Homo sapiens: one gene and its partner. The protein of the gene in region 1 interacts with the protein of each later gene in a pairwise test. Each region holds a gene or a part of one and is shown in the gene's direction. Other genes may lie near its edges. The genes, in order: AKAP19 and PRKAR2B.

What was found.
Region 2: the proteins of AKAP19 (region 1) and PRKAR2B interact in binary tests that used the Homo sapiens proteins (3 or more experiments, as listed by UniProt).

Annotation. Positions count from the first base shown.
Region 1 is NC_000002.12:190,197,709-190,204,153, forward strand, and holds the end of AKAP19 (small membrane A-kinase anchor protein), read left to right. Parts: exon of another isoform or gene 1-1,988; 5' UTR 1,989-2,152; coding exon 2,153-2,440; 3' UTR 2,441-5,776; downstream 5,777-6,445.
Region 2 is NC_000007.14:107,159,629-107,162,558, forward strand, and holds the end of PRKAR2B (cAMP-dependent protein kinase type II-beta regulatory subunit), read left to right. Parts: 3' UTR 1-2,183; downstream 2,184-2,930. UniProt on the Homo sapiens protein: Regulatory subunit of the cAMP-dependent protein kinases involved in cAMP signaling in cells. Type II regulatory chains mediate membrane association by binding to anchoring proteins, including the MAP2 kinase.

The DNA of each region.
Region 1 (6,445 bases):
TGCTCTATGCCTGAAAATAATGGCAACATATATTTTGTCTGGTTTTAAAACTGGTTTTGGCAAATGCACAAATCTGGCACTACTTTGTTAGGGTAAGAAAAAGCTGCTTTTGCAAAACAAAAGGTCTTAAAAAACAGAATATTCTGATGGTTCCACTGATGGTTCCACTCACAGCCTTTTATTTATCTGACACTCATTGAGTTCTCCAAGTAATTTTTTTCAGGTTAACCATGTCCAATTCCCTTAACCATCCCTCACAGTAAAAACTAGACACTATGAAAAATCATAACATGCTGATGATTAACAACCAAGACAGTCCCCATCTTCAGTTCAGGCTAGTAAACAAGACAGACACCACACATAACTTGTTTCCCTTTTAAAATTAACATCTCTGAAGTATGCAGCGTGAAGCAGGGCATACAGAACTAAAGGTAATTAAAAGCAGAAGACTGCCTTTCCTTTCTTACCCTCATATCACTCTTATTAGGGGTAGGAACAGATGTAGTATTATGAGAAACTGGGTAGAATTTATAGAATAATATATGGTGGTAGACCTGGCAAACATCACCTCCTCTGGACATCCTTAATTACAAACTATTAAAAAATGAATTAGATGCACGCAAGCTTTTGCCTTAAGATCAGTGGTTTCAGGCCAGGCACAGTGGCTCACGCCAGTAATCCAAGCACTTTGGGAGGCTGAGGTGGGCAGATCACTTGACCCCGGGAGTTCAAGACCAGCCTGGGCAAAATGGCAAAACCCTGTCTCTACAAAAACTTAGGTAGGCATGGTGACTTGTGCCTGCAGGCCAGCTACTCAGTGGGCTGAGGTGGAAGGATCACTTGAACCCAGGAGGTCCAGGCTACAGTGAGCCGTGATTGCATCCTTTACTCCAGACTGAGTTAACAGAGTAAGACCCTGTCTCAAAAAAAAAAAAAAAAAAAAAAAAGGTGTTTTCAGAAACAGATTTTATGAATTTTTAGAGCTATGTTTTTAGTCCCAAAACTAAGATACAATCAGGGACCATTAATCTCATTCATAGAGATTACCTGTGCTTCTTACACTCAGTCCTCTTTAAAATGAAGCTGTCTTGTATTGTTTTAGTTATCCTTAAGTCCCTTAAGAGGAGTTCATTCTGTGATAACACACACTTGGGAGGCTTAGAAGGCACATCACAAGCATTGTCATCTATTTATTGACCAAACATCAAACAAGGGTAGGAATGAGACATTTAGGAGGAAAAACCTTTAACCTTAATCTGAGCTTCTGTACAATTTCACAGGGAACAGTCAATAGGTGGCTTTGCTATATGTAACCTATATTGTTTAGACGTGGCACTAGAGTAAAGCCAACATTGTTTACTACTCTTTGAGTTGTAAATATGTGACCAGGGGATAAAGCCAGACTCTAACAGTAGTCCAAGATCTGTAGGTTCATGAGGTTTGGGGAGGAACAAAATTTTGATGTGCTTGTTTTGCTTGACAGTATAGATCAGGACTCAGCAAACATTTTTTGTAAAGGGTCAGATAGTACATATTTTAAGCTTTGTGGGCCACATGGTCTGTCACAGTTATTCAGTTCTGCTGTTGTAGTATGAACGCAGCCATGGACACATGTAAACACGTGAGCATGGCTGTACAAAAATAGGTAGCTGGAATTTGGCCCAATGGTTTGCTAGCCCTTGGTATAGATAAATCTAAGCTAGCAAAAATTGAATTGTTTTGGTATAGATAAATCTAAGCTAGCAAAAATTGAATTGTTTTCAGTTTTATAAAATATGCAAGATCTTGAAAAAAAGTTTTCCTATTTTGCAAGTTGCCATTTTTATTGAGTGATTATCTTTTTCTTCTACTGATAAGATAAAGCTGTTTGTTTTTACCTCAGATTTCTTCCATGTGACCAAAGTGATGAAAGGATTTTTACATGCCACTCAATCATACACTATTTTGCATTCTGTAACTTCAAAATGAAACCTACCTTCTCTTGACAGGTAAACACTACACGTGAAGAGTGGTGAAAGGGAACATTGATTACTGAAGTGCCCTGGAGAGGGAAAGCACTGGTCAACATCACATGGACAAATTTCATTGTTTTCTAAAGATGGCCTGGAAGTAGTCTTTGCCACTGCTTCCTCCACAAACAGCTCTTCATAACATGGGCTGCATGAAATCAAAGCAAACTTTCCCATTTCCTACCATATATGAAGGTGAGAAGCAGCATGAGAGTGAAGAACCCTTTATGCCAGAAGAGAGATGTCTACCTAGGATGGCTTCTCCAGTTAATGTCAAAGAGGAAGTGAAGGAACCTCCAGGGACCAATACTGTGATCTTGGAATATGCACACCGCCTGTCTCAGGATATCTTGTGTGATGCCTTGCAGCAATGGGCATGCAATAACATCAAGTACCATGACATTCCATACATTGAGAGTGAGGGGCCTTGAGGCTGTAGGATGACAACACTTTGACTGTGGAGGTGCTAGTTTGAATAAATGTGACAAAAGCAAAAACTGGTGTGAAAAAGTACAAATAACTATCTGGATTTAAAAATGTGTCTACGATAATGTCACTATTATAAGAACAACTAGGATGAAATGCATTTTAAGTACTTCTATGTTAACAGCAATTTCTGTTTAGTCTTAGATTTTAGTCATCTGAAGGGCTGAACAGAGGTCCTGTGACACCCAATAATCAGCTGAATGTCACAGCACTTCTTCCTAAGTAATGGCATCACCAAAGAAAATGCTAAGGAATAAAAACTGCCCCAAATTCCAATGGTTGAAGTTTATCCTTTAAAATAACAATTTTTGTTTGTTTATACCCAAAAAAAGTCCAGATATGAAAAGGGCTTTTCTAAAATTTCTTGGCGAGGGAATGGCACTCAAATCATAGTGATTAACAGTAAGTCTTGTTTGTTTGTCAAGGATCTCTACTTCTTGACACAAATGAACCCTGTCTTTAATAAGATAAGATATTTATTTTTGTAGATGAGAAGTGTAACTACCACCTTGGACCTCAGGGCCCTAACTAATTACAGCTGTTACTGGACGACTCAGACTTTGTGCCTAAAGCCATCTTAGAGATAACAGTTTATAGAAGCCATGACATTAGTGTTTATTGCATTGAATTAAGCCCAGTGATATAACTATACAAGAAAACAAGTAGGGGTACCTTTTACAAAGAGCAATCCAATAAATCTTAAAAATAACAGAAACTTAGTCTGCAAGGTAGAAAGTTTCAGTTTTAATTCTGTATTAAGCTTTACTATCTCAGAGGTACAGAGGGCTGGAATATGGGCATTTATTTCCAGTTTTTTCTTGACTAGTAAGGCGGTCACCATTAAAATAGACCAGATAATGCATGAAGATTTACAGTTGTATTGCAAAACGGAAAAGATAAAACTGTCCTTTGAGGAGAGTACTCGTTTTCTGGGTTTTTGTTATTTTTTAGTGGTAACACAAGCCTATAGGGCATTTATAGCCACCTATTATACTGTTTCCATAAGCCTGGCTACCTTTTAGGGAAGCTATTTTTTCTCTTTCATTTTTACTGTCACAGCACATACACACACACCTTTTTGTTTTAAAGGATTAAGTACTGTTTGAAGATCAGTGGTAACAGAAAATTTGGGAGGGAGAAGAAGAAATTAAGACATGACTTGTTAGAAAATTAAGACTTCAGTTTCTAGAATTATCTTTTCATCAAGATTTGGTAGACATTGAGTTTAAATGGAAAGGAAATTATTTAAGCCTGTGTATGTTAGATCCACAATACACCATTGGTATTGAAATATAAAGGTTAAAAAAAAGGCTTATGACCTCTTTAATGAGATAAATATGTATTTGTCTTGTAAGCAGGCAGAAAATCTACCTCTAATTTTAACACTAATACTTTGAAACCCACAATCAAATAGAGTGAATTCTCCAAGTTACATAAGCAAGGAAAACATTATTTGAAATATGCCATGTTTTCGTTGCCTTTGGACACCTCATCATTCAACTCTAATTTTACCGAGTCCCGGGATTTGTACTGTCCCATTGTACTTGCAATCTACAATTTATATAATAGAAAAACAACCAAACCCATTCATACAAGGATCTGAAGTTATAAGGTTAAGGGCAGAAAGTTTCCCATAAGTATAAAACATTTCCAGGTCATGAAGAGTAGTTTAGGTTGAGTGACAAAAGCCTAGGTGTGGTTGTTTTTCATTCATTTTGCATCTCACACCAAGACATTTTTGCTGCAAGGTCATCTGCTGCTTAAAATGTACAATTAGGTATATAAAATAAGTACAATGGTGAAAACACAAAGCCAGGTAAAGCAGCATGCCCCACTAAACTTTTCAGTATACATAGGGACAGACAAGTGAGTTTTGGTTGTATCTAAATATTTTAATTTCAGGTTCCTTCTGTGCCCTGGGCCACTATTTCCCAGGGGTGTGACAGAGATGCCTGCCAGATCCATATCAACTAGAAGTCTGATTTCTGTTGCTGCCCTTCCTCAGCAACTATGGCAGTATACTTTTATCACCAAGCACCACTCCCTTGTCCCTGAATCACATTTTAATAGAGTACAATATCTTCTGTACAATATTTCTGAAACACTTATGTCTGAAATATATGCTGTATTGTATGTTAACCCATGACATATATGAACTACAAGGCTTGCATAATCAGTGAGCTAGTGGATAAATCAAGACAGGAGCAAATGGGAGAAAGATGAATAAACAAATGAAAAAAGATGAATAAATGAATAAGAGAGATGAATAAACAAATTTACATTACATGTGATAGTTATCATGGTATGGCCTTCATGACAAGATGGATGAGAATATCACTGATAGGATATTAGCCTTCTTTCATATCTTTATATTGAAATATGGGCTTTACTTCAATTTGAAGGTCTTTCATGAACAATAAAAGAGAGTAGAAGGACTGTCTGAGAAGGCAGGAGACATATAAAACAGATGACTGAAAGACTGACTAGCTCCTGGAAAGGGAAACATTTGGAACATCCAGAGTAAGGGCAAATGGGCTTCTACCAGCACAACAAAGAGCCTCCAGGTGGCAACATGGAAGCAGGTTATCAGAGAAAATAAATGTGCAAATTCCTTATTTACAATGACTCACTTAACCCCACAAACATGTTTCACTGCTGCCTTCCCCAGTTGTCGCTTATGTACTGTTGTTACCTTTCAGTTACATGCCTTTGATCCTAAAATTCTCTACTTTTGTTGCCTTATCAGTTCTTTGCAATCTGCCTGTGGTTATCAGCACTTAAAGCACAATTTTGAAGGGGAAAAAAATGATAATCACCTTAGTCCCAAAGAAATAATTTGTCAAACTGCCTTATTAGTATTAAAAACAGACACACTGAATGAAGTAGCATGATACGCATATATCCTACTCAGTATCATTGGCCTTTTATCAAATGGGGAAACTATACTTTTGTATTACATAGTTTTAGAAATCGAAAGTTAGAGACTCTTTATAAGTAATGTCAAGGAACAGTAATTTAAAAACAAAGTTCTAACAAATATATTGTTTGCTTAATCACAATGCCCTCAACTTGTATTTGAATAACTAAATAGGACATGTCTTCCTTGGAGCTGTGGGCATTAGTTCAGAAGCACTACCTGCATCTTAATTTTCAAAACTTAAGTTTTATTAGCAAATCCTCTTCTCTGTAAGACTTAGCTATGAAGTGGTATATTTTTTCCAAATATTTTTCTGAAAACATTTGTTGTTGTAACTGCACAATAAAAGTCCAGTTGCAATTAACTAGTGTGAGCTCTTATTTAACTGAAGCAAATGCTTTCTGACAGTGTGTACTTTGAATTTTTTAACAATATAAAAGACAACATTTTCTGCATTGTTAACAAATATAGAGAACAAAAATCCATTTATACAAATAATTTCTTGGATCATTCAGGTCCAATTTAGGACCTTTAAGAGTATAAATGTAAATGTATCCGATATCATGGCATCTTTATTCCAGATCTGTTACTGAATTATTTGAAAGAAAAATGCTTCACATAAAACAGATTAAGAACTGAGAAAACATAAAGCAATACCTTCTGGGCTGCCATTTCCTCATCTATGAGAAGGGTGCAGGACATGATCTTTAATGTCTTTTTCAGTTCCGTTGGCTTTTTATTCTTACAAACCTGAAGTTCACTTAGTTTCTAAAGAGTATGGGATGAAGGAGAAACTATAACAAGTTACAAAAAATTTATTTTGTTTATAAACAAAAATTACAAACAAAAAATTATAAATTTTGTTTGTTAATTTATAAACTTACCTTTAAAATTAAACAAAAATTACAAACAAAAAACAAAATCATAAATTTTGTTTACTTTGTTAATTTATAAACTTACCTTTAGTTTAAAAATTATTCTTGCCTAGAACTTTAAGGTTCTGAGTCTGGAATACCTTTTAGTTCTTTCATAC
Region 2 (2,930 bases), on another chromosome or scaffold:
TGGTTAGTCCACTGAGAATGTGTTTGTGTAGATGCCAAGCATTTTCTGTGATTTCAGGTTTTTTCCTTTTTTTACATTTACAACGTATCAATAAACAGTAGTGATTTAATAGTCAATAGGCTTTAACATCACTTTCTAAAGAGTAGTTCATAAAAAAATCAACATACTGATAAAATGACTTTGTACTCCACAAAATTATGACTGAAAGGTTTATTAAAATGATTGTAATATATAGAAAGTATCTGTGTTTAAGAAGATAATTAAAGGATGTTATCATAGGCTATATGTGTTTTACTTATTCAGACTGATAATCATATTAGTGACTATCCCCATGTAAGAGGGCACTTGGCAATTAAACATGCTACACAGCATGGCATCACTTTTTTTTATAACTCATTAAACACAGTAAAATTTTAATCATTTTTGTTTTAAAGTTTTCTAGCTTGATAAGTTATGTGCTGGCCTTGGCCTATTGGTGAAATGGTATAAAATATCATATGCAGTTTTAAAACTTTTTATATTTTTGCAATAAAGTACATTTTGACTTTGTTGGCATAATGTCAGTAACATACATATTCCAGTGGTTTTATGGACAGGCAATTTAGTCATTATGATAATAAGGAAAACAGTGTTTTAGATGAGAGATCATTAATGCATTTTTCCCTCATCAAGCATATATCTGCTTTTTTTTATTTTGCAATTCTCTGTATTCTATGTCTTTAAAAATTTGATCTTGACATTTAATGTCACAAAGTTTTGTTTTTTTAAAAAGTGATTTAAACTTAAGATCCGACATTTTTTGTATTCTTTAAGATTTTACACCTAAAAAATCTCTCCTATCCCAAAAATAATGTGGGATCCTTATCAGCATGCCCACAGTTTATTTCTTTGTTCTTCACTAGGCCTGCATAATACAGTCCTATGTAGACATCTGTTCCCTTGGGTTTCCGTTCTTTCTTAGGATGGTTGCCAACCCACAATCTCATTGATCAGCAGCCAATATGGGTTTGTTTGGTTTTTTTAATTCTTAAAAACATCCTCTAGAGGAATAGAAACAAATTTTTATGAGCATAACCCTATATAAAGACAAAATGAATTTCTGACCTTACCATATATACCATTAGGCCTTGCCATTGCTTTAATGTAGACTCATAGTTGAAATTAGTGCAGAAAGAACTCAGATGTACTAGATTTTCATTGTTCATTGATATGCTCAGTATGCTGCCACATAAGATGAATTTAATTATATTCAACCAAAGCAATATACTCTTACATGATTTCTAGGCCCCATGACCCAGTGTCTAGAGACATTAATTCTAACCAGTTGTTTGCTTTTAAATGAGTGATTTCATTTTGGGAAACAGGTTTCAAATGAATATATATACATGGGTAAAATTACTCTGTGCTAGTGTAGTCTTACTAGAGAATGTTTATGGTCCCACTTGTATATGAAAATGTGGTTAGAATGTTAATTGGATAATGTATATATAAGAAGTTAAAGTATGTAAAGTATAACTTCAGCCACATTTTTAGAACACTGTTTAACATTTTTGCAAAACCTTCTTGTAGGAAAAGAGAGCTCTCTACATGAAGATGACTTGTTTTATATTTCAGATTTTATTTTAAAAGCCATGTCTGTTAAACAAGAAAAAACACAAAAGAACTCCAGATTCCTGGTTCATCATTCTGTATTCTTACTCACTTTTTCAAGTTATCTATTTTGTTGCATAAACTAATTGTTAACTATTCATGGAACAGCAAACGCCTGTTTAATAAAGAACTTTGACCAAGGCTATAAATGCCACGTACATTATTTTCAGTATTGTTGGTTATATTTAAATTTTCCTTACAATAAAGCACACTTTTATAATAAAATACATGAATTATTGTTTTTCATACTTTTTTGCTTGTTTCTTTAAAGTTTTCTGACGTGCATAATGCATAATTCATTGAAAAGCATGATAGCAATGTGGCATGTGGAAGCGAACCCCCAGGGCATAACATAGTAAGAAAGTATGGTTCTGTATGGCAATAGGTTTTTAAAATTATTAGCTATTCATCATGTGTGGGAGAAATAATTGTGGTGTGTTGCAGATTTATTTGGCCATTTAGAATAACCAAATCAATCTGGCTAACTAGGAATTTATGTGTAAAATTATCTGATTAAAACAGCTCAAGTTTGACTTGTGGATGTCATTATTTAATTATTAATCAACACTCCTTACTATGTGAGAATTCTCTGTTGACCATTCATTCAAGGACAGAGCCTCTCGTGTATCATGCGTGGCTAAGGAAAGGGGTGAGGACTTTTTCCCCAAGAGTGACGGTGCTTTCCCTTATTTTAAATAAAGGTGTGTGTGTGTGTGTGTGTGTGTGTGTATGTATGTGTGTGTGTATTGTTTTCTACATATCCATATGTACTAGGGCTTAGTGCAGATATTTTAACATACACGTTACCTGTGACACAACTTAGGTGAATGTATATGTGTTACCATTAGGATTAGTATTATAAACTCTGGCTAAATGCCATTTAAAATGCTTTAAAAGGCCGGCACCATGGCTCATGCCTGTAATCCCAGGACTTTGGGAGGCTGAGGCAGGAGGATCACGAGGTCAAGAGATCGAGACCATCCTGGCCAATATAGTGAAACCCCGTCTCTATTAAAAATACAAAAATTAGCTGGGCGTGGTGGCATGTGCCTGTAGTCCCAGCTACTCAGGAGGCTGACGCAGGAGAATCGCTTGAACCTGGGAGGCAGAAGTTGGAGTGAGCCGAGATTGTGCCACTGCACTCCAGCCTGGTGACAGAGCGAGACTCCGTCCATAAAACAAACAAGCTTAAAAATTCTTCAAGTGAAACGGCATGAAGCAAGAGACTTCGGATTTTATTGAAATGTAAAATTTAAAAACGCTGTGTTCTTTCCCTTCCC